2 linked regions of the Homo sapiens genome follow. The protein of the gene in region 1 interacts with the protein of each later gene in a biochemical or structural test. Each region holds a gene or a part of one and is shown on either strand. Other genes may lie near its edges.

Evidence for each region.
Region 2: of the proteins of LBR (region 1) and SRPK1, one has a biochemical effect on the other in vitro, tested with the Homo sapiens proteins (one study listed by IntAct).

What each region holds. Positions count from the first base shown.
Region 1 is NC_000001.11:225,422,540-225,439,179, forward strand, and holds the start of LBR (delta(14)-sterol reductase LBR), read right to left. Parts: upstream 5,500-16,640; 5' UTR 5,415-5,499; intron 5,354-5,414; exon of another isoform or gene 4,792-5,353; intron 1,551-4,791; 5' UTR 1,537-1,550; coding exon 1,372-1,536; intron 1-1,371. UniProt on the Homo sapiens protein: Catalyzes the reduction of the C14-unsaturated bond of lanosterol, as part of the metabolic pathway leading to cholesterol biosynthesis.
Region 2 is NC_000006.12:35,834,099-35,849,897, forward strand, and holds part of SRPK1 (SRSF protein kinase 1), read right to left. Parts: exon of another isoform or gene 13,706-15,799; intron 8,507-13,705; coding exon 8,437-8,506; intron 4,332-8,436; coding exon 4,239-4,331; intron 1,391-4,238; coding exon 1,206-1,390; 3' UTR 1-1,205. UniProt on the Homo sapiens protein: Serine/arginine-rich protein-specific kinase which specifically phosphorylates its substrates at serine residues located in regions rich in arginine/serine dipeptides, known as RS domains and is involved in the phosphorylation of SR splicing factors and the regulation of splicing.

The sequences.
Region 1 (16,640 bases):
AGCTGTACTTATTTCCAACACCATATGCAAGAAGGGTAATAATTAACATGGATTAAAACTGAGACGACAGGACAAAATAAATAAGCACACAGACCAAAAAAAAAAAAACAGTACCACAGTTTCACTCTGAACAAAACACATAAGCAGATCTTGAAAATAAAACATGAGCTTGGATGACTGGGAACTGTTTCACTGTGTCCCCACCTACTCCGAATCTCCTTATGTTGCTTCTAGGGATGTAGACAAATTACGCCCCAGGCCAAGTCCCTCACCCCAATTTTTGTGTGGCCTTCCTACTAAGAATGGCTTTTACATTCTTAAATGATTACAAACAAAATCAAAAGAACAGTATTTCCTGAAGTGTGAAAATTATCCAAAATTCAAATTTCACTGTCCATAAAGTTGTACTGGAACACTGCCATGTCTGCTCCCTTCCATACTGCCTGGAGCCGCTCCCATAAAGTCTAAAATATTTACTTTCTGTGCTTTATTCCTGGTCTAGAGCACTCGAAGTGTCATCCTCAGCCATGGGTCCTAGAAATGCTCGTTACTAATCTGTGCAAGTACCAAAATTGAGAAATAGGTGTATGGAAATGTTTATAGCATTTTGACAAAGTAATCTCATATCTATCGAATCTGATAGTAAAACTGTGAGTCGTCTATTGTGTATGTCTTTATTTTTCTAGTAACTCATTTTTATGGCATTTTATATAAATGTTTGTATACTACGGATCAGATATCTTAAAACCCAGGCCCTCACCAGACAGGTTGAAAAGCCCTGGGCTAGACTCGAATCTAATTAATGTCACTCTCCTGATTAAATCCTTGGTGTTCAGGATGAAGCCCAAACCCTTGGGCATGGAATATAAAAGCCCCCCCAGCCTGGCTCCTGCTTAGCCCTCCCCTACCACCCCCTTCCAGCACTTGGCTGACTGTGTCCCCCAGACCCCTGACTTTGGCATACTGCCCTCTCTGCAGAAACAGCCCCATCAACTGCTGTTTTTCCTGTTTGTTCTCAGCACTTGGCTAGGTGTCACTGCCTCTGAAAGCCTCCCCTGAAGCCCAGGGCTCTTCTCTACCCTTGATACACTCAACACCACCCACAGCAAACTCCAGACACAGAACGTAGTAAACCCAGGGGACCAACAGATGCAAATGGCTGTCTTTCCCAGTAAGTGTGAGCTTCTTGGGAACAAGGACTATGCCTCATTCATACATTCCCAGAGCCAAAAACAGTATGTGACCCAAAGCAAGAGCTCAATCCTCTGCCTTCAAACCGAGCTGAACTGACTATCCTGAGCTTAGAAACCATACTTAGAGTTATTTCCCACTTACTGTAAACACACTCTGATAAACCAAAGGAGCTCTTACCTTAATATCATTCTCTTTCAATTCAAGCTCTGTTCCATCTTTATACTTCACAGTGTAAAGCTGGGAGGTGCTGTCGTGGCTCAGAATTTCTACTTCATAATAAAGTGAACTCCCAGGCCATCGACCTCTTACCACTTCACCATCGGCAAATTTCCTACTTGGCATTTTCTATAATTAACCTGAATAGTTTTAAAGAAAAAAATTTGAGTCAATACATACACATTTATGTATTCGTCTTTTTCCACAGGCTGATCACTAAAATACAACTTTCCAGAATTGACTGGTCAGGATTTTAGGGCCAGAAAGGCTACATTCAATCTCATTTGGAATCATTTGAGAGGATGATTTAGCCACTGCGTTATCTATGTGACACTAAAGATTAATTATAACAATGTATATAGGCGCCATAAGTTCACACTATGTAAAATGTTACCCACCTACCGTGATCACAGTTCTCGCTAATCAAAAAATGAGGCACAATCTCACAAAGAACACATTTTCTCATTTGTAAATTTGCGTATCAATTTACAATGGCTTTAAAAATGCATTTAATTGTATTTTTAACAAATTGCCTTTATTAAAAACAGCAAACTATAAACCAGACTGGGAAAATCAAGGATGTACAATTAACATGACTATAACCCAACAATAGGAAGAAAAATAATTCCAAGTCTGTAATGAATAAATTTGGGGGTTATTTAGCTTTCAACTCTTACAGCTAAAGTACAAATGCATACCAAGTAACTCTGCCAACCACCCACCTAAGCCAGGGTGGTTGCCTTCATCCAAGCTCACTTCTCTCAAGCCTACAGCAGCCATCAACCCCCAATTATAACATTCTTTTCCTCTGATTCAAAACATGGCCCACAAGCCCCACAATACTCTAGGAATCCACAAGCAATCTGCAAGAACTGCCACTTACGTGAGGCCTGTCTGCCACCCTTTTTGAAATATCAATTGATAGCTGGGTACTTCCAGCTGCCAGACAGTAATGCCGCTCCATCGGCTGACCAGCGGAATCACATTTCCACACAACAAAACCAGGGCTGCCGACCTTCCCCAGTACCACATGAACTAGCTGGGGCCACGTCCAAGGGGCAGCCAGTAGGACAGATATGAGCTGTCTCCCAAATCACCTTCATTTCACCAACTAAGCACTTCTTGATGTATTGTCCAAGCCTATCAATGTACATTCCTCACTGGCTCCTGTTAAGAGCTGATGATACAATAAAAGCAACATTTAGGAACCTTTGAAGACTCTGGAATTAAGGAGAAAGTTGAATTACCTACCCCAAGGGAGTAGTGGGAGAGTGGGGGGGGAGGCGGGGTGAGGGAGGCCTTTCTTAACCACCACATTTTTTCACTGTTAATCGTCTGTGAAAAAACTTAACAAGCTCTACTAGTTTACAGAGATGGCAGCTAGGTTGGTAGATGAAAGAAAACACAAGTACTTATCTGGTGATTAGAGGATGTCAGTCAATTAACACATTAGGTAAGAGAGGCAGCTTTCTTCCCTACACCTACCTGAGATTGGGCATCACTGGGGTAATGAATGGGTTTGGGCTTGGAGTAGTGGGGAGGAGCCCACAAGTTTTCGGGATGAAGTCAGGCCTGGCTGAGTCACCCGAGGGGCACTTAGGGAGCAGGGGGGCAGTGAACACCTCTGCATGAGCAGGGGCATAAAAACGGAAGGTGACAACATCCAGCTTTGCCTATTTCAACATTTAGCTCAGAGCCTCCAAGTACAAAGAAAGAGGAAGGAAATGTACCCTCCTTCTCTCTTCTCTTGAGCCCCCTCCTCCTCCCTAGGCCCCCCAAAATCAAACCACTCTTACTAGTACTAGCTCTCCTACACTGGTCAGCCAGAGTTAAAAGAAGGCAATTATGTCTTCCTACAGGAAGATGCTCAAGTTGCAAAAAACTCTTTATAAACTTTTGAAACACAAGCCCTTCAGGACGCAGGGGCTACTTGAGGTTTTAAAAGACCCTTGAACAGTTTCTGCGTGTTCTTAAAAACTTATTTACTGGCATCTTTCCATTGCACTTACACACCACATACACAGTATCTGTGTAATATAAACGCAGGCCAGTGCCAAAAAGATTCTTATCAATTATTCTGGGTTAAACAAGTTAACACATATGGTGGATACCTGTTAGGTCTCTAAAGCTTACTTTTTAAAAGAAGAATTAAGATTTGCTTGAAAAACAAACAAAATGAACCGGCATTCTTCTTAGAAGACCATTATCTTATACACAAATGTTCCAAAAGATGAAGCCAACAACATGATGTGCACCCCCACTTTACACAAGATCCACACACAATTGTCAAACGTGAGGATACAGTGCAATCACATCCTAATATATTCCCCCACAGGAGTGAAATAGCCAGGATGGCACACAAAAGCCCCACATTTGTTCGTGTCACTCACTATGCACTCACCTACAGGAGTCAAGATACACACAGGATTTTCTTACAAGAGATGTTTTAGGCAAGTGTGTTTGTAAAGAAAAATTTTGTTCACTGCACCCAATGTCCTCATTCGCCATAAACAGGAAAAACACGGAGACCCTCAGGTTTTTCTCTATTAAGCCAGATGCCCGCTAACTTCAGAGTCAACTGGCACTGCAATCCTCACACATTCCAGCTCCGGTATGTTACTGTTTGTGAACACAACAATTCTCTGCTCATTAACATTACAGGGGTCTCCAGCCATCTTTCCTTCACTTCTCCAAATTCATCTAAACGTGGCATAGAGCAAGACGCTCGAATGACGTTGGACAGCTTCCTTTTCACACCTGAGCCCCGGTAGCCCCACTAGGCAAAATGCAAACAGGAACCCCGGGCCTTGCTCCGCGCCCTTTGCTTCATGAAGCAACAGAAAGGCCACCTTCCTGGCTGTAAAGGCAGAAGCGCCTTCTTCCCCATAAACATCCTTGGGCAGCTCATCATTCCCCTCCTGCTCGTTCTTCTCCCTCTTCCCAGGCAGCCTGAGAAACAAAACTTAAACTGGACTTGTTGCCTAATCTAAATTAGGATCCCTCTGCTCTTCTCCGTAGCTCCATCTTCTCCCACACACCAGTTACTACAATGCGTAACTACAGATCTACACGTGTTTACGTGCAAGGTCCCCGGGGGCCTGTTCACCCTGGCACTGCCCAGGCGCCGCGCCTCGCGCTGCAGGTGTCCACGCGCGGACCACGGTATCTACCGCGCCCTCGTGTGAACACCCGACCGGGCCCCGTAATCACTCTGGGAAAGCGCCTTCAACAAAGCCCTCCGAAAGCAAGTGCTTTACTAAGTGCCCCTTGAGGCTACTGGCAGTGCGAGGCTGGCTGTCATTAGAACATTTTTCTGAACCCTCAAAAAGGTGAAAAAGCAGGACCGTGCTTTAGCAGGAACACGCACACCCGCCTAAATACCCGATTTTTGAGACTGTCCGGGCGAAGGAATTCAACGCATAGGAGCGAGCAGCCATGCAGTGTGCCTGGAGAATCACCAAACCGCGACGACCACGACCCTCAAAGCCAGTGACAAGCAGCGCGAATCTAAGCCCACCTCGGCCGCAGACCCTTCCCCGTCCCGCCAGGCCGCCGCGCCCTGTCAGCCTCCTACTGCAGGACCGCGGGGCCGCCTGCTCATCTGTCAGACGGGCGCTCGGAGGGGCCGGGAGCCAGGCTGCGGTGGGGCAGGACAAAGGCGCCCACGAACCCTCCCTGCCGCCGCCGCTCCACAGCCGCGCCGCGCCGCCAACATGGAGGGAAACGTCCGCAGTTTAAAACCCCCAGCTCCATTTCCGCAGCGGGCCCGGCTCGGGCGAGCTCCAGCCTCGCCCGCCGCCGCCCCGACCACCCGACTGGGCCAGAAAAGGCGAGGAGGGGAGGAGACGAGGAGGCGAGGAGAGGAGGGGAAGGCCGCCGCGCCAGGCCCCGCGCCCAGGGTCCCCGGCCCGGCCGCTGCGCCGGCCTCGGGCTTCCTCCCCCAGCGGCCCCTCGAAGAACGCGCCGCGGGGAGCTGGGAGCAGGGCGGGGGTGGAAGCACTCACCTGCGCCAGGTTCCGGCGGTGACACGGACGGCTCCCGGAGAATAGTCGCACAGCAACCCGGCGGCAGATCCACGCGCGCGACGCTACCCGGCCGCGCTCTCGCGCCCCGCAGTCCCGCAAGCCGGGCGCGCGCCTCCCCGGCCCCGCCTCGCGGCGCTTCTCCCCTCCCCTCGCCTCCCCTCCCCACCGGCGAGGCCGCCCGGGGCTCCCATTGGCTCCTCGACCTTTTGAATCATCCCCGGCGCTGTCGATTGGTCGCGCGCCGTGGCGCGTCCGCCCCGCCCCACCCTGCCTGGGGGCGGGGAGGCCGGTGAGCGGGGGAAACCGAGTCTGGCGGGGCGGCCCGGAGCGCGACGTTTGCCACCGCCTTATCTCAGCCGCCCAGGCGCCCTCGCAGCACACGGAGCCCGCGCGCTCCCGCCCTTTCCCTCCCAGCGCTCGCAGCAGTGTTTGGGGTGCCAGGTGGCTTGGCGAACGAGATTTTTTTTTAAGCTACAAAGAAAACTAATACATTCTTGAAGTGATCACCAAAGATCCGAGCTCGAAAGCGTTTCTCGGTAAAACACTATGAGTGCCCTCCTTAGCGTGTTAAAATCCCACAGAAGCCCCTGGACCAAGCAGCGGCATCGAAGGCGAGCAGGGGCGCTTTTGTGTCCGCGGCCGCTGAACCTGCGTAGAAGCGAACCCGGACCGATGCTGGGACCGGCGGCGGGAGGGAGGGGGAAGAATGGCCGAGGGCTCCTACGACTTACGCTGCGAGGAGGGGCTCGGTTGTTACCCGAGATGCTGTCGAGATGCAGTAGAAAATCCCCAACACCGCGGAGCGTGGAACAAGAAGTTTTATGCGTTACACACCGAAACACAACTTGACCTGCAACCTACAAGCCTGGTTTTAATTGAACCCCAAAATGCTGAGTCATGTCATTGTTGACTCCGAATCTGTTACGGATCCTAAGCTTTTTTTTTTCTGCTAGTTTTCATTATCGGTTAGTTGATTTCCTTCCTTTGAGGTCGAGAGTTTAAAGCAGTCCATTGAAGTTCCCTATTTTGCAGTGTGGTTTTAATCAAAGTATTTCTTAACACCCTAACTAGGTATATTTAAGTGAATTGCTATTTTGGAAGCATTATTAAATTGTAATAATGAATAGAACTTTTCATCTATAGCCTAGCTTCAGCTTTCATTTTCTCATAGAACTACAAAACACCCAGGTTTACTTCTTAAAAAAAAAAAAGTGAAAATACATCGAGTTTTCTCAGTCATTCACATGCAGTGTGAATGAGTTCATCAGAGCCTTTCCTGAGAAGTTCTGACATCAAATTGTCATTGCCATCGAATTTGCCCTTGGTGGAGATCTGTGCAACAGAAATGCACATCGCACTCCAAAGTCAGAAAATCTTTTATTTTTGACAAACCCCCAAGTCTCAATTGTCTTAACCCTTGACATAAGATAATATTAGTCCTACCTCATAGAGTTTTGCAGTAAATTACACAGAAATAAAAGCGCTTATGGGGACCTAAGACAGATCCTATCCCAAATAGCCAAGCAGTGAGTGCTACACTATTCTTTTCTCATATGTTCTACCCAGAATCAAGATTTCACTGGATTTCCCTTGAGGTGCACATTTCCTGGATGATTTCCACTTGTGAAATAGAAGAAGATTCGTTTCAAAAAAAAAAAAAAAAACACCTGGCCAGGCGCCGTGGCTCACGCCTATAATCCCAGCACTTTGGGAAGCCGAGGCGGTTGGATCACCTGAGCAGGAGTTCGAGACCAACTTGGCCAACATGGTGAAACCCCATCTCTACTAAAAAAATACAAAAATTAGCTGGGCACGGTGGCGAGCACCTGTAGTCCCAGCTACTCGGGAGGCTGAAGCAGAAGAATCGCTTGAACCTGGGAGGTGAAGGTTGCAATGAGCTGAGATCATGCCACTGCCACTCAGCCTGGGCAAGAAGAGCGAAACTCTGTCTCAAAAAATAAATAAAATAAATTTTTAAAAATTTTAAGAACCTTATTTTAAAGATCAGGTTTATAAAGTCTCATCATAACAAAATGAAGCCAAAACTTTGTAAATTAACTAGAGTTAGCTTAGCTAACATTTTACCTAATAAATTACTAATGACATTTTTAAAACAAAACTGATTTGACATCAGGAAAACTAAGCAATAATTTTTGTTCATTTCTACTTCGTGGACTCAAACATACCATGAACAATCAGATCTATATGTAGGCTGCTTTCTCAACAAAGGAACTGTTTGGTATTTTTCTCTTCTTTTTTAAGTCTACTAAAGGCTGTGTAAACTTGGAAGTGGGGAATTTTCAGAAAGTTCTCAGAAAGATGCTTGTCACTCACAACTAGCAAGTTGTGGGTTTTCAGAATCTATAAAGTAAAAGTCACTTAAAAGTCCGCATCTTGGCACCATTGTTGTTAATGAGGCCATGAGTGGCAAAGCCCCTTTCCCCATTCACATAACAAAAGCAAAGCAAAACCCTTCAGTCCTGCCACTAAAGCCAACCAAAACACACATGCGGCCAGGAAGCTTTCATATATAAAATACAGGAACCCCCAGCGGAATGCATTCCAATGTGGCAGTTATTTGGCTCTGGTCTCCAGAGGATCTCGGTTCCCAGGATTGAAACATCTCTTTCAGGAAAGACGTGTAGGTAAAGTTTCACGTGGCGTGAGATCCAGTTGGATTCTTTTGGTACTGTTACATAAGGAACAAACTTCTGTATGCTGCAAACTGCAGAAAGCCTTTATTCATAAGGTAGAGGTACCTCAAAAGCTGTCCGATAAAAACACATTTCTACTGATGATGTTTGATATGGTTTCTATTCACACAGAAATGGAGCTCACAATTAACATGATGCATTATGTCCATCTCAATAGCAATTTAAAAATTATTTGAAACTTCTTCTACATACTATATGTATGTTTGCAGCACTTATCCTCTTTTTTTTTTTTTTTTTTTTTTTTGAGATGGTGTCTCCCTCTGTCACCCAGGCTGGAGCGCAATGACACGATCTTGGGTCACTACTGCCTGTGCCTCCTGGGTTCAAGCAATCTTCTCACCTCAGCCCCGAGTAGCTGGGATTACAGGTGCACGCCACCATGCCCAGCTAATTTTTGTATTTTTAGAAGAGATGGGGTTTGGCCGTGTTGGCCAGGCTAGTCTCCAACTCCTGACTGCAAGTGATCTACCCACCTCGGCCTCCCAAAGTGCTGGTGAGAGGTGACAGCGTGCTGGCAGCCCTAGCAGCCCTCGCTCACTCTCTGCACCTCCTCGGCCTCGGCGCCCACTCTGGCCGCTCTTGAGGAGCCCTTCAGCCTGCCACTGCACTGTGGGAGCCCCTCTCTGGGCTGGCCGAGGCCGGAGCGGGCTCCCTCACCTTGCGGGGAGGTGTGGAGGGACAGGCGTGGGTGGGAACCAGGGCTGAGCACTGGGCTTGCAGGCCAGTGCAAGTTCCAGGTGGGCGTGGGCTCGGCAGGCCCCGCACTCGGAGCGGCTGGCCGGTTCCGCAGGCCCCAGGCAGTGAGGGGCTTAGTACCCAGGCCAGCAGCTGCGGAGGATGCGCTGGGTCTCCCAGCAGTGCCGGCCTGGCCCACCAGCGCTGTGCTGGAATTCTCGCTGGACCTCAGCTGCCTCCCCGCAGGGAAAGGCTGGGGACCTGCAGCCTGCCATGCCTGAGCCTCCCCCACACCATGGGCTCCTGAGCGGCCTGAGCCTCCCAGATGAGCGCTGCCCCCTGCTCCACGCGCCCGGTCCCATTCCGACCGCCCAAGGGCTGAGGAGTAGTGTGGGCACAGGTCGTGGGACTGGCGGGCTCCCTGATGCAGGATCCACTAGGTGAAGCCAGCTGGGCTCCTGGGTCTAGCGGGGACTTGGAGAACCTTTATGTCTAGCTAAGGGATTGTAAATACACCAATCAGCACTCTGTGTCTAGCTCAAGGTTTGTAAATGCACCAATCAGCACTGTGTATCTAGCTAATCTGGTGGGGACTTGGAGAAACTTTATGTCTAGCTAAGGGATTGTAAATACACCAGTCAGCACTCTGTGTCTTGCTCAGGGTTTGTGAACACACCAATCAGCCCCCTGTGTCTAGCTCAAGGTTTGTAAGTGCACCAATCAGTGCTCTGTGTCTAGCTAATCTAGCAGGGACTTGGAGAACCTTTATGTCTAGCTAAGGGATTGTAAATACACCAATCAGCACTCTGTGTCCAGCTCAAGGTTTGTAAATGCACCAATCAGCACCCTGTGTCTAGCTCAGGGTTTGTGAATGCACCAATCAGTGCTCTGTGTCTAGTTAATCTAGTGGGGACTTTGAGAACTTTTGTGTCTAGCTCAGGGATTGTAAACATACCAATCAGCACCCTGTCAAAACAGACCAATCAGCTCTCTGTAAAATGGACCAATCAGCAGGATGTGGGTGGGGCCAGATAAGGGAATAAAAGCAGGCTGCCCAAGCCAGCAGTGGCAAGATGCTCAGGTGTCTTTCCACTTTGTGGAAACTTTGTTCTTTTGCTGTTTGCAGTAAGTCTTGCTGCTGCTCACTCTGCATCTGCATTGCGTTTATGAGTTGTGACACTCACTGTGAAGGTCTGCAGCTTCACTCCTGAGCCAGTGAGACCACAAACCCACCAGAAGGAAGAAAAGTCTGAACACATCTGAACATCCGAAGGAACAAATTCTGGACACGCCACCTTTAAGAACTGTAACACTCACCGTGAGGGTCCGCGGCTTCATTCTTGAAGTCAGTGAGACCAAGAACCCACCAATTCTGGACACACTGGGCTTACAGGCATGAGCCACGATGCCCAAGCCTATTTAAACATTCTCAATATTAAACATTTATTTGTTAATACATAAATTAGAAGGGGAAACTATTTGAATAGATGGAGCAAGTATACTGCTTCAGTGGAGGAACTTAGAAGATGTGGGATATGTGTGCTTTAATGACTTGTTGATAGAGGGAAAACAGCAGCAGGATATGAGGTAATAATAATGATAAATAATCTTTGTTCAGTTTTTACTTCGCCCCCAGCTGTTGCTCAAAGTGCTCCCTGTGTTCTAACTGATTTACCCTCATAAAAGCTGTCCCAGGTAGGTGATCTTATAGCTGAAGAAACTGAGGAGGTATGGGGAGGTTAATACTTCCCCAGACTTATCCAAGGCAGTGTGATTCCATTGTCTCCCAAACCAACTAGCAAAGTGCAGGAGTTCTCAAGGTATGGTCCCTGCTCAGCAGCAGAGCTTCTCCTGGGGGCTTGTTAGAAATGCAGCTTCTGGCTGGGTGCGGTGCGTCATGCCTGTAATCCCAGCACTTTGGGAGGCCGAAGTGGGCGGATCACTTAAGGTCAGAAGTTCAAGACCAGCCTGGCCAACATGACAAAACCCCATCTCTAATAAAAATACAAAAATTAGCTGGGCATGGTGGTGCATGCCTGTAATCCCAGCTACTCAGGAGGCTGAGGCAGAAGAATCACCTAAACCCAGGAGGCGGAGGTTGCAGTGAGCCGAGATTGTGCTGCTGCACTCCAGCCTAGGCGATAGAGCAAAACTCCATCTGAAAGAAAGGAAGAAAAAGAAAGAAAGAAATGCAGCTTCTCAGGTCCGCTCCTGAAGCTTGAAGCTTGGGGTGGGCTCAGCCATCCAGCTCTCCAGAGGATTCTGATAGAAGCAGGCTCCAGTTGGAGAACCTCTGGCGAAAAGATAGGTCATGGTGACCGTAATGATTTATTTTCCTTCACGGTTTCCTATCTGAGGCTTTAAACCACTTACTTGATTTATAGAAAGGAATACTAGAAAGCTGTTCTGAAGCTTGTGCAGCACCCGAGTGTCTTCCCAAAGGACTGATGATATGTTGAGCCTTAGATTAATAAGAGTCCATACCTGCTGGCCAGGCTGAAGAGACTGGCCAAGAGGTAGGGGGGTAGGGAGAGGGGGCTGTCAGGGATGGGAGTGGCTGCCACCATACAGCCTTCTCCTCCTCTCTGGCCAGAGCATCATGAGATTAACTGCTCTGGCAAAGTGTGCTCTCTTGTTTTGGAAAACTATTTCTTTACTGGCTGTAGAATTAATGTATTCTGAAAACTTCTAAGGAAATTTACTTTTTAAAAAATAATAATAAAGAATTAAAACTAAGGGTAAAGGACATTTAAACTGAATGAGGACACTGAGAATCAGAAAGATCACACAGTGTGTGGCAAGCTGTGCTTCAAACCAAGTTTTTCCGGACTCCAAAGCATATGTTCTCATCATAGGTTCTAGAGCAGGCACCTGCGTTAGCAAGACGGTCAGATGCATAAGCACATGCAACCTTGATTTACGTTACTTATTGCCAGCCAGAAAGAGGAACAGAATTCAGTACCAGAATTTACTAGATTATAATTCTAGTGAAACCAGGTCTATGTTGCTTTTGTTGATAGTTCTTGGCACATAATAGGTGACTATTTGTTGAATTAATTGATTGATTTGGTGATCGATTGATTAGGTGGAGAGAAGGAGGGAGACAATTCTAAGATTGATCCAACACTCAGTACAAGGAGAAATTAGTGAAGACCAGCCTGGCTGGGGTGGAGTAACAGCTCATAATAGGAAAAAACTATGAGAATGATGTCAATATCATTCGATCTATCAAAAGATCCTCCTACCTCAACTAAAGGGCATAGAGTGACCATGGAAGTGACACTGGGCCAGGAATGCAGTGTCTGAAGCTCCAGGGCTGCCACTCAGCCCTTATCCAGCAAGTTATCCAGGTCCTGATTTCCTCATCTGTAAAATGGGGATAAAAAGTACCCATTCTGGCCAGGTGCGGTGGCTCACACCTGTAATCCCAGCACTTTGGGAGGCCAAAGCAGGCAGATCACTTGAGGTCAGGAGTTTGGCCAGCCTGGCTAACATGGCGAAACCCCGTCTCTACTAAAAATACAAAAATTAGCCAGGCGTGGTGGTACATGCCTGTAATCCCAGCTACTTGGGAGACTGAAGCAGGAGAATTGCTTGAACCCGGGAAGCAGAGGTTGCAGTGAGCCAAGATCCCTCCACTGCACTCCAGTCTGGACGACAAGAGTGAAACTCTGTCTCAAAAAAAAAAAAACAAAAAAGTGTACCCATTCTGCACAAGGTACACTAGGTAATTGTGAGGATTAAATGCTATATACCTGTTAGAACATATCAGGCAATCATAACCCTTAGTGTAATCATTTTATTTCAAGTTCGTTAAGTCACCATTTTTAGTCAACTATAAATAGATGAAAGAGTGTTTTCAGTAGCAGATGTGTCAATAATGTTTTAATGCGTTTGTTGTTTTTTCTCTAACCGCCTAAATCCTTTGAATCATCCTGTAGTGCACACTTCAACATAAAAGACGTAACTTCGTCTTTTCTTCCATGCTACTCTAACTGAAAAATCTAACCCGCTGGATTAATCTTAAAACTTAAAGGTCCTTGGACTGTTCAGGAAGTGATTATTATTCACATTTATTTTAATGTTTGCTAATTAATAACTGTTTTTTAAAATTCGCCTAAAATGCGTTTGGATAGGTAGAGAGTCCTGAAATATTTATCTGCAGGAAAAAAAAATCAAACTTAGTAACATGACACAGACAAGGCCTTCAAAAACTCACCCTAATGGATTTCTGGTAGGCTCAACATCCTCTTCTCTTTCCAGCACCTGCCTTCTCTTTCCCACCCCCTCCACCCTCAGTTCTACCAAATTTCTGATGAGTCCTCAGATAAGCCTTTTCCTCTCTTGTTGCTTGGAATGCCTCCCCCTTCTTTTGAGAGTGGCCTGTTCTTGCTCATCCCCAGCAAAACTTCCTAGGGCAGTCCCCACATACATCTGTCACTGCCTTCCCATGTTATGGGCATCTGCACTCCTCCCAGGCAGGAAGTATATTTAATTTCTCCTTGTATCTCTCCCCATTAAGTAAATGAATGTGTTCATCATGAAACTGTGTCATATATGTTCTCCTAAAGGTCAGAAGGTAGTAAACGCTCTTGTTCCAGTTACTGAGCTGCCACAGGCTGGACTGAGGCAAGAAGAGATAAAGCCTCCGCTGGCACTGACTGTTCCCACCGGCTGGAGAGGTGCGGAAGCCTATCTTCGGTGTCTCTCTTGCTGTCTGCCACAGGCTCACAGCCCCATGGTGGGGACTCTGCTGTGCTTAAATACCCTTTTCTCCACCTGGGTTGCCACCATCTCTCTTAATTCAGAATATGTAACTAAATGTTTCTTTTTAAAACCTACAGGGAACACAGGTGCATGGCTTGTTTTGGCATGGTTGCTAAAACTGCGAGTCCCAGAGGGCAGCCTTCTTCCCCACCTCCCACCCAAAGTCTACATTCAGAGGCAGACGGGGGCTCAATTGTGGAACAGAAAGTACCATCTAGGTAACATGTAATTACCATGTTGCTTCCCTTCTGGACAAGATAAGGCTCAGCCCATCAGTGTTAATGTTTAGCACTTCATGTCTGTTCAGCAATTGCTCCCACTCTATCAACAAAACTACACCATACCCTTTAGGAAAAGTGTGTAGCAACTACAGTTGGCATCAGAACAATGGAGAAAGAGAAGGAGAGGGAAGGGGACTCATTTCTAATGAGGCCCTGTTCTGTGTCACTTACCAGTCCTTACCTTATTTATGGCTCAAATCAACTCAACAAAATAGGCATCACCCCCTCTTTCAGGACGAGGAAACTGAGACTCAGGTCAGCAAAGTTGCAATACAGCGCACCCACCAAATTGGGGCTGGAAAAGAAATTCTAACCCAGTTCTCTGGATTCCAAAGCATATGTTCTTTCTACCCTCCAAACCCATTAGGGTCCCCAAGCAGCCTCTTAGCTCCCTTAGCCATTGACTTCCGGTCGCCACACACAATTCATATTACATGATCCCACTGTCAATGTCAGCTGGAGACATCCCAGGCTAATGAGAATATAGCTTGTGGGCGTTTTGTCTACATTTCTGGAGCAAAGAACACTCATCCCTGCTCTCTCAAAGAGCACCATGCATGTGAACTTGTCCTTGTCTCTCACCCTTTGATTCTTTCTTCCATGGCTGGTCTATTTTAATTCTGATACCTATTCTGGATTCTGTAGGACTGTCTTTATGTCTTCCTTTCCAGGGACTATCTTAGAATATTCACTTGTAGGTATGATATCAAGGGCAGGATCACTGTAATCTTTGTAGTACACTTAGTACAGTACCCAATGTGATTAAATCTGTTTAAAACACATTTAAGGGGAATAAAATATAAAATATTTGAGATGAATATTTAAAACCAAATTTGCATAATTGTTTTAAATTTTTTCATTTTACTTGAGCAAGAGGTACAACATAAAACCTATTTGGAGCACAGTAGTGTATTGAATCATTTTAGTCATAACACACACCTACATAAATGACTAAAAATATCAATATTTTATCCTTTTAAACAGATGACATATAATTGCAACGTAGATTTATTTGAAAGTTGTACAGAGTTGGCTTGATAGTTATTCAACAACTGTAAGTATTAATTGGCATGAGTATTTCAGCAGAAAAAAACTATATATTCATACTAAGTTGCTGATGATATTTTGCTTGCTTACTTTAGATACAAGAGGCTAGGATCCCAGAAATTTCACTGCTGTAGCAAAGCAAGTCATGTTACTCTGAATTGACAGTTCCCAGTCATTCTCCACGGTAAGTCATATTGCCAAACACAATGCCATTTTTAGGTCTACTTTAATCCTATTTGACTATACAGATATGGTTTTTATTTACTTAGTCCTATGGTTTGAATGTTTGTCTTCGCCAAAATTCATTTGAAATTTAGTTGGCATCGTAACAATGTTGAGAGGTGGGACCTTTAAGAGGTGATCAGGCCATGAGGGCTGCACCCTCATGGGCGGCATTACTGCCATTATAAAAGGGCAGGGTCAGCCCCCTTTCATCTCTTGGCCCTTCCACCTTCTGGCCATGGAGTGACACAGCAAGAAGGCCCTCACCAGAGGCAGGCATTTAGTGCTGTTCATTATAAATTACCTGGTCTGTGTTATTCTGTTATTCAAAAATGTCATTTCTGCAAATATATAGTTCCTCCCTTTTTAAAAAAAAGTTCTACTTCTTTTTTCTATTTTACTTTTACTGATGTTTTGTGTATTCATCTTCCTGGTCCTATAGAGAACTCCTATTGCTCCGTAAGTCAAGGCCAGAACTCCCATCCTGACCAGAAGGAAAGATGCCCAGTTCCCACATCTCCTTTGCTAGGCCTGCCAGAAGGGGGCTCCTCCTCCTGGCCAAGGCAGGCTAGTCAGATCCCTTTGTGTTCATTTTTAAAAAGAAGTGCCATATCCTTAAACATACTTCAGCTGTCCTTGTGCCTGCTGGATAATGTATGAGCTTCTGGAAAAAATTCTTCAGCACTGAACATGAATTTAACAGGATATCGCTCCCTTCTTAAGGTTTTCAAATCATAAAGTCAGATTAGGGATTCCCATTAATAATTAGTCCTCTTTATTACACTCAAAAGGACAACATAAATTCCTGTCAGTTACTTTGAAAATACTTTGCTCATTAATACCTACTCAAACCAACGATAAATACTACTTACAAAAATTCTCTCCTTAACAAAACTCCACCCAGGCTCCTCTCAGCCCTCTTCTCAACTAAGTGCTATCCTTGGACTATAAAGACTTGATCAGGCCGGGTGTGGTGGCTCACGCCCTAATCCCAGCACTTTGGGAGGCCAAGGTAGGTGGATCACCTGAGGTCAGGAGTTTGAGAGCGGCCTGGCCAACATGGTGAAACCCCGTCTCTACTAAAAATACAGAAATTAGCCAGGCGTGGTGGAGCATGCCTGTATTCCCAACTACTTGGAGGCTAAGGCATGAGAATTGCTTGAACCTGGGAGGCGGAGGTTGTAGTGAGCTGAGATCATGCCACTGCACTCCAGCCTGGGCAACTGCCAGAGCGAGACTCTGTCTCAAAAAAAAGACTTGATCAAATGCTAGCATAGTTTCTAACAGCTCAAGGGCCTTCCCTAGGATGGCCCTAGCCCCTCTTAGAATGCCTGCCTGAGAAAACTCGAGGCTGCCCAGGGAATTTACTGTTGGTTCCAGCCAACACCTGAAGACAAGGCCCCCATCTCCCTGCCTCTGTGGGAGGGTAGGAGCCTAACTTCCATAAGCACCAGTAAGTAAACAGATGGGTTGCACATGGACCAACCCCCACTTCCTGC
Region 2 (15,799 bases), on another chromosome or scaffold:
GACATTATGTAGGGAAATAGCAGCAGAGAATGGCTAATCTTAAAAAATAACGAACCAACCAACCAAAAAACAAAACAAAACAAGACCAACAAAAAAAAGTGCCATCCCACCCCTCCCCTTGGTTCTTTCATTTGGGGTTATATTAAAGACTCGAGCCTCTGAGAAAATCAGAAAGGCAAAGCCATAGAGGAAAACTGCTTCAAGGCCAGAATTTTGGGTAAGGTAAAGAAAAAGCTGTACATGAAAGCAGGGGACTGTTTGGAAAAGAATCAGAATCTCAAGATCTATTTTTCTTAAATGGGAAAGCTCTGAAACCCAGATCTCCGTTCTACCATCATCCTGATCCTTTAGTTATGGGGCAATAAACTCAAGTGCAATGAGTAAAGTGCCAGCCATGGATACAAAAACAAAAAATAAAACAAAACAACCAACCAAAATAACTCTGGTCTTAGGGTAATAGAAGACATACAGGAAAGGACTGTTTATAGAACACCTGAGGTTCTCAAGAAATTACTATTCAATGGTTCTGTTTTTGCTTACATTAAAAATCAGACTGAAGATTCAAAGATCTTAACTATTAAAGGATGAAAGGAATTTGACAGTGCTTTGAACAGTGATAAAATGGTACCCAAATTTGGTGTTCATATAGCTATTTAAAAAAGACAGTAGCTTAAAAGTTGCAGGAAAAAATGTGAACACAGAGAACAACAGAAACAGTCCAGGAAGATGATGCAGCCCGGACACAGCAAGTTTAATGTCTCTGCTGTACATAGAATTAAGACCCTTTCCCCCTCCTCATCCTTATGCTGGCAATAGGATATGCACTAGAAAATTTGACTCTTAGAGTCAATGAATAAAAGGATGGGCTCATACACCTTCATAGCTCTTTTCAAAAAGGATGCTTATAATTTAAAGGATGTCCTAATGGGAAGGAAAGGTACAGGGCAAGAGGCTGTTTCACATTTTAGTCCATTAGTCTTTGGCAGAGCCCAACCAAGGCCAAATTCACCTAGGATGCCCAATGGCTGTGGGGATCTCCACAGGGTCAAGTAAGCAAACCCAAATGAACATGTTGGATTAAAAAAAAAACAAGATCTAGAAACTCTTGAAGGAAGAGCTTCACCCTGAAAAGGGAAGAGGAAAATGCTTGAAGGGGAAGGGCGGAGGGTCAGTGTGTGATCTCTGCTGTGGTGCTGGGCAGGGGCTTAGGAGTTAAGCCAAGGGTGCCGGAGACACTCGGCGGCAGTGGCTCTCTTCTCAGGGATCAGCTCCAACATGGGCAGTAAGAAATCTGTGAAGCCAGCTGCCTCTTCCTGCGACCACTCATACTTCTCCACTAGAACCTCAAAAAGGCCCCAAGGTTTCAGCTTCGTGATATGTTTCAGGTCACCTGCAGTGAAGACAGTACAGAAAAAGCCACTGATCAACACAGACAAATGACAAGGTACTCTTGTGGAAACCCACAAACTAACCCATGTAGTCTATGAGGAATCAAATTTTGCAATCAGAATCTAATCCTTCATTCACAAAGCATTTCTTTTCTGACATATGCCTCAGAAAGAAGTGCCTCTATTCTTCATACGGCTCCAAAAATTTAAGGTAATTTGTTTTCTCCCCTATTCTAGGATTTTTTTGGTCCCAGTCAAACTGGGTGTGACAATCAAGAAGTAGGTATTTACTACTAAAATAAACATGAAATGCCTATGTCTTCAACATGGTCTTATATGGTGTGCAGAGACACTCTAGTACCACATACCGAGAATAATTTGCTTATACTCTTTTTTTGTGTATGTGCTCAATAGTTTAGTAAATGTTGCTTTACAGTGAGGCAGTAAAGTTAAAACATCATGTCAAGCATGGATAAAAGCAACAAAAAAAACCCCAAATCCTACACAGTTTTCAGATACAACAGCTTCATATACTCTATACCAGGGGTCCCCAACTCTATACCAATACCCCCTATGGTACCAGTCTGCGGTCTGTCAGGTCTGCACAGCAGCAGGTCAGTGGTGGGCCAGCAAGCATTACTGCCTAAGCTCCACCTCCTGTCAGCTCAGTGGCTGCATTAGATTCTCACAGGAGCGTGAATCCTACTGTGAACTGCAGTAGGGATCTAGGTTGCATGTTCCATAAAAGAACCTAATGCCTGACAATCTGAGGTGACACAGTTTTATCTCCAAACCACCCCCCAACCCCCCCATCCATTGAAAAACTGTCTTCCACAAAACCAGTCCCTGGTGCCAAAAAGATTGGGGACCGCTGCTCTACACTATACTGGAGTATCAACCTAATTGCTTCTTTGAAGTGACAACTTTTTAAAAGATAGTCAATTATTAATAGCTAAGGCAAATGCTGCTTTAAAATTTTAAGTTGGCCAGGCACAGTGGCTCATGCCTGTAATTCCAGCACTTTGGGAGGCTGAGTCGGGTGGATCACTTGAGCTCAGGAGTTCAAGACCAGCCTGGGCAACATAGTGAAACCCTGCCTCTACCAAAAATACAAAAAAATTAGCTGTGTATGGTGGCACATGCCTGTGGTCCTAGCTACTTGGGAGGTTGAGGCAGGAGGATCATTTGAACCTGGGAGGTGGAGGTTGCAGTGAGCCAAGATCGTGCCACTGTACTCCAGCCTGGGTGACAGAGTGATACCCTGTCTCAATAATAATAATAATAATAATAATAATAATAATTTTTTTTAAACATAAAAATTTTAAGTCTCTTTTGTGAGCAGTGAGTGCCTATTTGATTACCTACCTGGTAAACACACATGCCTTAATCTGACTGCACATGAGGAGGAACTCTTATGAAACATTTTACAATTTTCCCACCTAAAAAGAGGTTTAAGAAAGGGTAATGTTTCTGAGGATGGCTCCTGCCAAGGATTGAGAAAAGTCATTTTTCTCAGCACTTCTGTAGAAGTTGTGAGGAAAAAGGGAACCATGGCACAATGGGGGTAGAAAAACCAGACCATTTCCTAGATGCTTCTAGGTCAGGTTTTCACATTTCAGGTTTTTTTTGCAATGCTTAAGAAATATATTATCAAGTCAAAAATTGGAAGTTTTGTTTTTGTGGTTTTTTTTGTAATAACAAATACATAAAACTAAAAAGTGTGAAGTTCGTTTGTATGACTAATGTACTTCGAGTGACTGTGTTAGGTGTCACTGGGATGCAAAGATGAGTGAGATGTAGTCCCTGCCCTTATGTAAGAAGCTTAAATTACCTGCCCTTTGGTAGAGGCAGTTCTTAGACCAAACGCCAGCAAAAAATTTGCCCATTTTTCAGAAGTGCTATAGAAGTAATCAACCAACTGCATGCAGGCACTATACATATTAACTGTTAGTAAGAAGTATACTTTATTATTATCTCCATTAAGAAATCAGCAAACTGAGGCACAGTTAGATCCTGTCAAAGGTCACATGGCTAGTGGAGTAGCCAGGATTTGACAGTCTGGCTCCAGTCTCTGCTCTTTTTTTTCCCCGAGACAGGATCTTGCTCTGTTGCCCATGCTGGAGTGCAGTGGCAATCATGGCTCACTGCAGCCTTGACCTCCCAGGCTCAAGTGATCCTCCCACCCCAGCTTTCGGAGTAGCTGCGACCACAGGTGTGTACCACCATGCCCAGTTAATTAAAAATTTTTTTTTGTAGAGACAGGGTTTTCCTGTGCTGCCCAGGCTGGTCTTGAACTCCTAGACTCAAGTGATCCTCCTGCCTTGGACTCCCAAAGTGTTGGGATTACAGGCGTGAGCCACCATGCCTGGCTCCAGTCTCTGCTTTTTTTTTTTTTTTGTGAGACAGAGTTTCACTCTTGTTGCCCAGGCTGGAGGGCAATGGTGCGATCTTGGCTCACTGCAACCTCCGCCTCCCAGATTCAAGTGATTCTCCTGTCTCAGCCTCCTGAGTAGCTGGGATTACAGGCGCCCGCCACTCTTCCCAGCTAATTTTTTGTATTTTTAGTAGAGACGGGGTTTCACCGGGTTGGCCAGGCTGTTCTCAAACTCCTGATATTGTGATTCGCCCACCTTGGTCTCCCAAAGTGCTGGGATCACAGGTATGAGCCACCGCGCCCGGCTCAGTCTCTGCTCTTGACCACTTTTTTTACCTCTTTTTTATCTCTTTGCTAAGTCACAGGTTAGCATTCAAGGCAGGCCCATCATTCTGTAGGACATTGGGAATATGTGCTTACCTCTTCATTTTTAAACACTTCTGCCTCCTTAATGTCTGGGAACACATTTACTTTACCTTTTTTGGTGAAAAATTCCTTGGAATATTTTCCTGCCACAATGAGCTTGCGAGGCACCTTCCCCAGAAGTTCTATGATCAATGCAATGTGATCTGTATATTTCAAACATTTCAAGAGGGGGGAAAAAAAAGATCCGTAACAAGAGTAACAAATGCAGCTCTAGAAAACAGCAGAAGGAGCAGCATGCACATCTCTTTGTAAAGCCTATCAGGCTTACTTTCTATCCTAAATGGGAAGAGGAAGACTCTATCCATCTAATGGAGAATTCACAAAGTCAAATTTTTGTGGATTCAGTGATAACTAAAAACAATCTTGGTGTGAATGCTCTGCTTCCTGAAGTATCCCTGGGTCCTACATAACAATACTACCTCTGTGACTGAAGAAGTCTTGTGAATATTTCCCACTGAGGGAAAAGCGTCTTGGAATTCTGCCTATCAGCTCTATAATGTGCACAATGTGGTCTAAAATAGAAGGGTAAGAAGAACAGATCAAGGACAAGCTGTAAAAGAGGTTTTTCTATGAATAGCTTTTTCAAGGACTAGCTGTTTAAAAGTAACTACAAATAAAACCAAGGATACTGAAGGAAGACTGACTGGGAAGGCCAAGAATTATTTCAGGTGGTTGGTCACCCGATAGTGTCTGGCAAGTCCCATTCTGGATTTTGGAGGCTTATCTTCATCTTTAGTTCTATTTTGTCTATATATCTAGGTTCAGGTAGGTTCTTTAGGTAAGATAAAAAACTGTCCAAATATGTGTTAGGCATTCTAGAACTATTATTTGTGATCATTCTGTCTCAGCCTCCCCAGTGGCTGGGATTTCAGGCATGTGCCACCACACCTGGCTGACTTAAAACATTTTTTGTAGAGATGAGGTCTTGGCATACTGCCAAGCTGGTCTCAAACTCCTGGGCTCAAGCAATCCTCCTGCCTTGGCCTCCCGAAGTGTTGGGATTACAGGCCTGAGCCACCACCTGGCTGATACCCCATTTTAAAGATGAGAAAATAGAACTTCAAAAAGCATGAATGGCCTAACTTGAAACTTCAGGGCTAATATGAGCTAAAACTCAGATGAAAACCAATGATCTTATGTCTTGTCTAAAGCTTTTAATTTCTTCCTAAAATCACTTTTTAAAAGTAAAGATTAGCACAAACATTTTAAAGTATAGCTGCTTGATGATCTGTAAACATCACAGTATGAATATGGACCATGAGCACAACCAGGGAGGCATGCAGCCTCTTAACCAGGAGGTGAGTCTGGGACCAACCAGTACACACACCTCAGGTAGATCTACTGCCCCCCCCCTTTTTTTTTTCTCTCTGCAGGTGACAGAAGTTAAGAATATAAAACTTTTTTTTTTTTTTGAGATGGAGTCTTGCTCTGTCGCCAGGCTGGAGTGCAATGGCATGATCTCGGCTCACTGCAACCTCCACTTCCTGGGTTCCAGTGATTCTTGTGTCTCAGCCTCCTGAGTAGCTGGGATTACAGGTGCATACCACCAGGTCCAGCTAATTTTTGTATCTGTAGTAGAGACAGGGTTTCACATGTTGGCCAGGCTGGTCTCGAACTCCTGACTTCAAGTGATCTGCCGCCTTGGCCTCCCAAAATGCTGGGATTACAGGTGTGAGCCACTGTGCCTGGCCTGTATTTTTTGTAGAGATGGGGTTTTGCCATGTTGCCCAGGCTGGTCTCAAACTCCTGGGCTCAAGCGATCCACCCACCTCAGCCTCCTGAAGTGCTGGGATTACAGGCGTGAACCACCACACCCGGGCATAATACTCCTGGCCAGAAAAAAAGCTTTAGAAAATACTTTTATCGTGTAGTTACAGAATCATTAAGGTTTAAACTTCCAGTTATGTATCTTATAGGGGAAATAACATGCTAGAGACGTCCATATTATCTGGGAATTTGTGAAGGTTTCAGGTTTTATCTTTCTCATGTAAAGGAGTTAGTGGTGTCATTTAAAGGGGACTTCACATTTATGACTTCCCTACAACCTTTGAGCAGTTTTGACTGAATTTATGGTTTGGTAACAAGTACCTGCATGCCAAGAATTTTCTGCTGGTTTTTGGCAGGACCTGCAAATGTGTTTTTACCATTAACAATAACAAAAATAAGAATACTAAGGAAAAACTTAGACTATAATTTCTAAGAGAGCTTCTTAAAGTTCTTAGAAACTTAAGTAAACTTCCAAGTAAAATATTGGTCCTTTAAATATTTTTCCTATACCAAGGAATTCCCTTGAAATTGTTACTTTACACTTAATTCTTGCAACCTATTTTGGCTTATGATAGGATTGATATACTTGACAGATAAAATTATCAGGTATTATCCCATGAGTTAGGGCTGTGGAAAGCCAGAGTAGAGGACATGGTACTCAGGCTTCTGTCCTACCACGACTCGTAACAAACTATGCACACACTAGTCAGGGGTAAGGGTTTGCTTGTTCCTGCTCTTATAGGTCAAACTGCAGCAGAACAGCATCGGTGGGGCTGATGTTTGACCTAAGGACTATTAGTACTAACTGGTATAGGATGGAATAAATTAGAATTTAAACATCTAGGGAAGATGGTTTTTCCTTGTCCCCTTATTTGGGACTCTGCATATGTATTAAAATTTTCAGGTTTGGTAGCATAAGGTAACACCCGATATAATTCTAGCCACTATATGTGTTCTGTACCACACACTACCATTTATGGAGAATCTAGGGAAGTAAAGGGGAAAAAAATTAATTACCCTCCCAAACAAACATAGTAGGTAGTCTCTAGGCCTATAATCCCAAACACTGTAAGCCTATAACCCTAAACCTATAACCCAGAAAAATAGCAAGCAGAGAGTAGGTAAAATCAAGTAGTAATTATAGTATCCTCTAACATGGGGCTTATATATACAAAATATGTCCAAACTCTACCCACTTAAATAGGCATTCATGGGAATTACATAGCATAGCATTTTCCAAATGGTATTCATTAGGAATATTAGCAGGTCCTACTAACATTACCTATTAATATCCCAGAAGACCACATTTTGAGAAACAAAGAGCACTCTTGGTTCCATACAGCATGAAATATGCATTCCCAAAGATTCAAGGAAAGCACAAAAAGTAAAGAACATGCTCTACATTGGGAGGGTAGATGCTGTAGTGATATCTCAAAATAATCCTCATTAATCCTACAACTAAAACATAAGCTGCCTCAACTGTATAAAACATTTTCTTGGCTGAGCGTGATGGCTCACGCCTGTAATCCCAGCACTTTGGGAGGCTGAAGTGGGTGGACCACGAGGTCAAGAGACAGAGACCATCCTGGCCAACATGGTGAAACCCCGTCTCTACTAAAAATACAAAAATTAGCTGGGCATGGTGGCACAAGCCCGTAGTCCCAGCTACTCGAGAGGCCGAGGCAGGAGAATCGCTTGAACGAGGGAAGTGGAGGTTGTAGTGAGCCGAGATCGCACCACCGCACTCCAGCCTGGCGACAGAGTGAGACTCCGTCTCAAAAAAAAAAAAAAAAAAAAAAAAAATCACAAAACCATTTTGTTTGTTCATTCAAATTATTAACTCATTTAGTTATCTGGATGCCATCATAATAGAAAAATCAGACACACACAGTTGCTGCTTCCACAGTCTCTCAGACAAAGTAACTGGCAGCCTAGGCTTTTCCCACTGGCTACCACAACATGTAAATCCATTCTACTTTGTTTTAAAATGGAATTCCAAAAAAGAAAAAATTAGTTTTATATTCAGAAAAGGGAAAAAAGAATGCTAAATTTTGGCAGAATTTATAGAAATAGGATATAGTCTCTGCATTCAAGTAGTGTGTGTATATTAAAATAACTGACCTCTAAATAAATTTGGAGGCATAATTGAGCAACAGGTTGATGAGCAGGTAAAAAACTGGGTAAAGAATGAACCACTGATATATACAGAAAGGAAGATAACTAGATGTTGAAGAAAAAATTGTCCAGCACACAGAAGTTTTAGGTGAACTGTGGCCTTTTGACTCTGACAGAGCTCTTTAGTATCTTTCAGAAAATATCTAAAAACCTAATATAAAATGTCTTTTATATTTCTAACTTTTCTGGGATTTACATGTTTTGCACACTAACAAGACTAAGGCTCTTCGGTACTAACAAATGATGTTAGCTTAATGTGGAAAGTGTAAATACCACGCACACACATCCATGGTTAAGGGGACTCACCTTCATCTCGAGTGTACTCTTCCCCTGAATGAGGTTCAAACAAATAGTCACCTGTGGCCAGTTCAAAGGCCTAAAAAAAAAAGAGGACAGTATATGAAAGCACAAAAGAAAAGAAGGCCTTTGGAAAGCTGATTGCTATTTGGCTCAATATGAAGTAACTCTTGTTCCCTTGGGAAAACTTATAGATCATTTAAAAAAAAAAAAAAACAAAAACTTAAGATTATTCCTAAAGCATTCCTTCCACATCCCTATCTTAATAAAATGGAGAAAACAGCAAAGACTCAGTAAATACTAACATGTGGGTTATTTCATGCCCAAACCTCCCCACCCTAAACCCTAGCAATTCAGCCCTCCTGAGTTTCCCTTTTTTGGCCGGAAAGGGGCATACCTGGATATTAAGGTGATTCTAAGTTATTATTCATGAGAAGAACAGGTCTTTTTTTTTTTTTTTTGAGACGGAGTCTCACTCTGTTGCTTAGGCTGGAGTGCAGTGGCACGGTCTCGGCTCACTGCAAGCTCCGCCTCCTGGGTTCACACCATTCTCCTGCCTCAGCCTCCCGAGTAGCTGGGACTACAGGTGCCCACCACCACGCCCAGCTAATTTTTTGTATTTTTAGTAGAGATGGGGTTTCACTGCGTTAGCCAGGATGTTCTCAATCTCCTGACCTCGTGATCTGCCAACCTTGGCCTCCCAAAGTGCTGGGATTACAGGTGTGAGCCACCACGCCCAGCCCAGGTCTTTCTTACATTATAATCACACATGGCTAGAAATTGAGATTCTGTACCAAACAAAAAAAATCAAAAAAAAAAAAAAATTCAGACTTCTACTTATGACTCTTTAGTGTTTGACAAGTACATCATTAACTTTTGCATAGGAAGTACTCCCTAGATTGTCCCAGATGGGAAGTTCCTGATTCCTAGGTCCTTTGTTTTTGAGATGGAATCTTGCTCTGCCGGCCAGACTGGAGTGCACTGGCATGATCTCAGCTCACTGCAACTTCTGCCTCCTGGGTTCAAGTGATTCTCCTGCCTCAGCCTCCGGAGTAGCTGGGACTACAGGTGCATGCCACCACGCCCAGCTAATTTTTGTATTTTTAGTAGAGATGGGGTTTTACCATGTTGGCCAGGATGGTCTCAATCTCTTGACCTCATGATCCACCCGCCTCTGCCTCCCAAAGTGCTGGGATTACAGGCGTGAGCCACCATGCCTGGCCAATTCGTAGGTCTTTAGAAAATCAGAAGATTAAGTGTAAAGGGAGTCAGGAGCCTAGCCTATGTGACTGGCAAGTCAGCACTCCCTAATTAGGAAAAGAAAAGCCTGTCTCCTTTAATAGAAAAACCTCTTACAGTGCTCGAGAGTGTCTTAGGAAATGATATCCTTGGGAATAAGTGCCATGCAGAATGAAAAGCAGGGCTACATAAATCCTCACTGATTACAAATGGAGTTTTAAAAATTAGTACACAACAGCAGTTTTTTTTTTTTTTTTTTGGATGGAGTCTCGCTCTGTCGCCCAGGCTGGAGTGCAGTGGCACAATCTCGGCTCACTGCAAGCTCCGCCTCCCAGGTTCATGTCATTCTCCTGCCTCAGCCTCCCCAGTAGGTGGGACTACAGGTGCCCGCCACCAAGCCCGGCTAATTTTTTGTATTTTTAGTAGGACAGGGTTTCACCATGTTAGCCAGGATGGTCTCGATCTCCTGACCTCGTGATCCGCCTGCCTCGGCCTCCCAAAGTGCTGGGATCACAGGTGTGAGCCACCACGCCTGGCCAACAGCAGTTTTAAAAAATGACCTTATTGATAGGGAAGCACAGTTATAAAATAAGCGCTAGTCATAGGTCAATTTTGATTAAATCAATGGTACTAAGCAGTCCAAACAACCTCAAGAACTGTAGAGTCCAGGACTTAGTTGGGGCATATTCTCAATTTAGACCCAAGTTTAGGTCCTGGTGGCTCACCAGTGTCAGTTTCTGCAGTTTCATGACAGAACAGCCTTTCTCAAAACTGTACTACCGTCCAGAGGGAGACCACAAAACCAGAAGTTTCAGGATAGGTTTAGGAATCAAATACTATCTCTAAATGTCAGCAGTGCTATGGCTTCTTGCTTGGCATTGCTTATTTTACATTTCAGTTGTTTATTAAGAAACTGAACCACAGTGATAGAGCAGATACTTGTTCTACCCTGAGTTGTTCCGAGGTTTATAGTCCCAAAGCAACAGAGAAACAAATCATGATTCTTGTTCACCAAAACTTGTCAATCATTCCTGATACCAGTACTTTAAAAAAAAATCTCATGGTCTCATATATAGAGTTCAGTAAAAATACTGAAATTAAAGTTAAAAAAAACAAAAAACAAAAAACACAGAGCCAGCCGCGGCAGTGCTATACGCCTGTGGTCCCAGCTATTCAGGAGGCTAGAAAATGAAATACTCTTCAGTGCTAAAAAGAAATGAGCTATTAAGCCGTGAAGATATGGAGGAACCTTAAATGCATATTACTAAGTGAAAGAACCTAATCTAAAAAGGCTACATACTGTATGATTCCAACTATTTGACATTATGGAGACAATAAAAATATCAGTGGTTGCCAGCGAGTGGGGGACGGGAGGGATGAATAGGCAGAGCACAGAGGAGTTTTAGAGCAGTGAAACGATATTGTATATAATAATGATAGATACATTTGTCAAAACTTCTAAAAGAGTGAAATGAAATGTAAACTACTGACTTTGGTTAATAATGATGTGCCAATGTAGGTTCATTGTTTGTAACAAATGTATCACTCTGGAGCAGCAGATCGACAGTTGGGGAGGCTCTGTGTGTGGGGAGCATATAAAACTTATTTGTACTTTTTGTTCAATTTTTCTGTGAACCTAAAACTGCTCTAAAAAATAAAGTCTATTAAGAAACAAACCCAAATAAAACCAGTGTACCATCCTTTGTTAACCTTCTCTAGACTATTGCCTTTGAGAAGAATGGCTTAGAAGATAGCATGAAATGCATGGAAAAGTTAAAACAATGACAATTTAAACAGACTAATTACATTCAGATCCAGAAGTAAATTGCAAACTCCAGGTAGCAGAAAGGAATACTGACACAGCTTGAGGGGCAATCTAGCATTTCATAAGCAATATGGTTGTGTGTGGTCAGAATGCCAAGGAGTGATTACCAAACAGAAAATGAGGAGTTTCAGGTAAGAGCTGTTTCTATAAAGTAACATGTCCATCATCTGTATCAATGGGCTGGCCAATGGCTGTCTCAAAGTGAGGAAGACAAGTCAGAGTCCTGATGCTTGGCCTTCTGCAGAGATGCAGGTGTGCTCAATGTATTAACTTAAGGGCCCTTATCTTGACCCCAGGTTTGACCACATTAAGAAAGGCTGAAGTGCTGGAAATGTTATTTTAGAAAAAAGGAATTAACAGATGATTCAAATTTCCTGTCTTCAACAATCCATACCAAAGGGAAGTAAAATTCCAGAGCAGGGCTGGAGGCTGGAACAATAAAGTCTGTTTTAAATTTAAAAGGTTGCCAAAGAATAGGGGAAAAGGGAAACACGGAGTTTTTCTTCAATGGTATATAGAGTTTCAGTTTAGAAAGATAAAAAATTTCTAAAGAGGCCAGGTAGGGTGGCTTACACCTGTAGTCCCAGCACTTTGGGAGGCCAAGACGGGAGGATTGCTTGAGCCCAGGAGTTCAAGACCAGCCTGGGAAATACAGTGAGATCCCATCTCTTAAGAAAAAAAAAAAATCTAAAGATATGTTGTATAAAAATTTGAATATAGGCCAGGCGCAGTGGCTCATGCCTGTAATCCCAGCACTTTGGGAGGCTGAGGCAGGTGGATCACTCATGCTCAGGAGTTCGAGACCAGCCTGGGCAACATGGTGAATCCCGTCTCTACCAAAAATACAAAAAAATTAGCTAGGCATGGTGGCACATGCCTGTGGTCCCAGCTACTCAGGAGGGTGAGCCGAGATTGTACTACTGCACTCCAACCTGCGTCCTGCATGACAGAGTGAGACTGTGTCTCCAAAAAAAAAAAAAAGACTAAAAAAATCAGAAATGAAGAAATGAAAGAGGAGACATTATAATGAATACCACAGAACTACAAAGGATAAGAGACTACTATGCACAATCATATGGCAACAGATTGGATAACCCAGAAAAAAATGGAAAAATTCCTTGACAATATAACCTACAAAGATTGAACCATGAAGAAATAGAAACAAGAGATTAGATCTGTAATAAGAAGTCTCCCATCAAAGAAAAGCCCAGGACCTGATGGCTTCACTGCTGAATTCTACCAAACATATAACGAAGAAGTAACAGCAATCTGTCTCAAACTGCCCCTGCTACTGCCAAAAAAAGACAAAAACCATATGATCATCTTATTAGATGGAGAAAATGCATGTGACAAAATTCAGCATCCTTTCATGATAAAAATGCTCACACAATTAGGTATAGAAGGAATGTACCTCAACACAATAAAGGCCATATTTAAGAAGGCCACAGCTAACATTGTACTCAATGGTGAAAAATTGAAAGCTTTTCCTCTAAAATCCAGAACAAGACTCTCCCCACTTCTATTCAACATAGTATTGTAGTATTGGCAGTCCTTACTAGAGCAATTAAAAGGCAGCCAAACAGAAAAGAAAGAAGTACAAATGTCAGTTAGCTGATAACATAACTTTTTTTTGGCAAGATGGAGTCTTGCTCTGTCATCCAGGATGGAGTGCAGTGGCACAATCATGGCTTGCGGTAGCCTCAACTCCGGGGCTCAAGTGATCCTCCTTCCTCAGCCTCCCAAGTAGCTGAAACTACAGGTATGTGCCACCACATCTGGCTAATTTTTTCATTTCTTTTGGTAGAAATGGGGTCTCGCTATGTTATCCAGGCTGGTCTCAACTCCTGAGCTCCAGTGATCCTCCTGCCTCAGCTTTCCAAAGTGCTGGGATTACAGGCATAAGCCACCAAGCCTGGCCTGACATGATCCTATATATAGAAAACCCTAAAGACTCCAGCAAAAACCCGTTAGGACTAATAAACAAATACAGTAAAGTTGCAGGATACAAAATCAACACACAAAAATCAGCAGCATTTCTGTAAACTAACAACTATCTGAAAAATAAACCAAGAGAACAATCCCATTTACAATAGCTACAAAAAAAAAATACTTAGAAACATATTTAACCATGGAGGTAAAAGACCTGTACACTGAAAACTATAAAATGCTGATAAAAGAAATTGAAGACACAAATAAATGAAAATATATCTTATGTTCATGGTTTGGAAGATTTATTTTTATTTTATTTTTTTTTTTGAGAGAGGGTCTTGCTCTGTGATCCAGGCTGGACTGTAGTGGTGTAATCTCGGCTTACTGTAACCTCTGCCTCCCAGCCTCAGGTGATTCTCCCACCTCAGCCTCCCAAGTAGCATGCACCACCACACTTGGCTAATTTTTAAATTATTTGTAGAGATGGGATTTTGCCATGTTGCCCAGGCTGGTCTCACACAATCCATCTGCCTTGGCCTCCCAAAATGCTGGGACTACAGGTATGAGCCACTGTGCCCGGCCTTACTATTGTTAAAATGTCCGTACTACTCAAAGTGATCTATCAGATTCAATGCAATTCCTATCACAATTCCAATATTATTTTTCATAGAAATAGAAAAAACATCCTAAAATTCACATGGAATCACAAAACATCCCAAATAGCCAAGGCAATCATGAGCACAAAGAAGAAAGCTGGGCTGGGCATGGTGGCTCACGCCTGTAATCCCAGCACTTTGGGAGGCTGAAGTGGGCAGATCACTGGAGCTCAGGAGTTTTGAGACCAGCCTGGGCAACACAGGGAGACCCCACCTCTACAAAAAATACAAAAATAGTTGGATGTGGTGGGGCACACCTGTAGTCCCAGCTATTTGGGAGGCTGAGATGGGAGGATCACTTCAGCCCAGGAAGCGGAGGCTGAAGAGAGCTGTGATTGCGCCACTGCACTCCAGCCTGAGTGACAGTATGAGACTCTGTCTCAAAACAAGAACAAAGCTGGAGGCATCAAACCACCTGATTTCAAACTATACTACAAAGCTACAGTAATTAAAACAGCATGGTCCTGGCAAAAAAAGCAGACGCATAGACCAAAGGAACAATATAGAGAGCCCAGAAATGAACCCACGCATGTATGGTCAAGTGATCTTTGACAAAATTGCCAAGAATACAGAATGGGAAAAGGATAGTCTCTTCAATAAATGGTGTTGGAAAAACTGGATATAAAAAGAATGAAACTGGACCACCCTCATCTCACTCCGAATACAAAAATCGAAATGGATGAAAGACTTAATAAGACCTGAAACTGAAAAACTACCAGAAGAAACAGGGGGAAACCCACATGACATTGGTCTGAGCAATGATTTTTTTGGATTTGACCCCAAAAGCCCAGGGAGCAAAAGTGAATACAGACAAATGGGATAACATCAAACTAAAAAACTTCTGTACAGCAAAGGAAACAATAGTGTGAAGAGATAACCTATGGGTTGGGAAAAAATATTTGCATGCTATACATTTGATAGGGGTTAATATCCAAAATAATATGGAACTCAACTCAATAGCAAGAAAACAAACAAACAAACCCAATTAAAAAACAGGCAAAGGACCTAAATAAACATTTCTGAAAAGAAGACACACAAATGGCCAACAGATCTATTAAAAAAAAAGCTCAACATCACTAATCATTAGGGAAATGCAAATTAAAACCAAAATGAGATATCATTTCATATCTGTCAGAATGGCTGTTATCACAAAGACGAAATATTTAGTGTTGGTGAGGATGTGGAGCAAAGGGAAGTCTTGAATGCTGTTGGTGGGAATGTAAATTAGTACAACCCTCATGTAAAACTATATGGAGGTTCTTTAAAAATCTAAAAATAGAGTTACCATATGATCCAGCAATCCCACTTCTGGATATTTACCTCAAAGATTTAAAATCAGTTTGTCTAAGTGATGTCTGCATTCCCATGTTCACTGCAGCACTATTCACAATAGCCAAGTTATGGAATCAACCTAAGTTGATTTTAAAATCAATCTAAGTTGAGTCTATACAGATCAGATAAACAGACAATAAAATGTGGTATATACAGGTTGCTCCAAAATCCAAAACTGACATGACACGCAAAGGAAATGCTCATTTGGAGCATTTCAAAGTTTAGATTTTTGGATTTGAAATGTTCAGCCAGTATGTATTCTGCAAATATTGCAAAATCTAAAAAATTCCCCAAACTGAAACTGGTACCAAGTGTTTCAGATTAGGGATATTCAACTTGTATACACAATGGAATGGAATACTATTCAGCCTTAAAAACAAGATGGAAATTC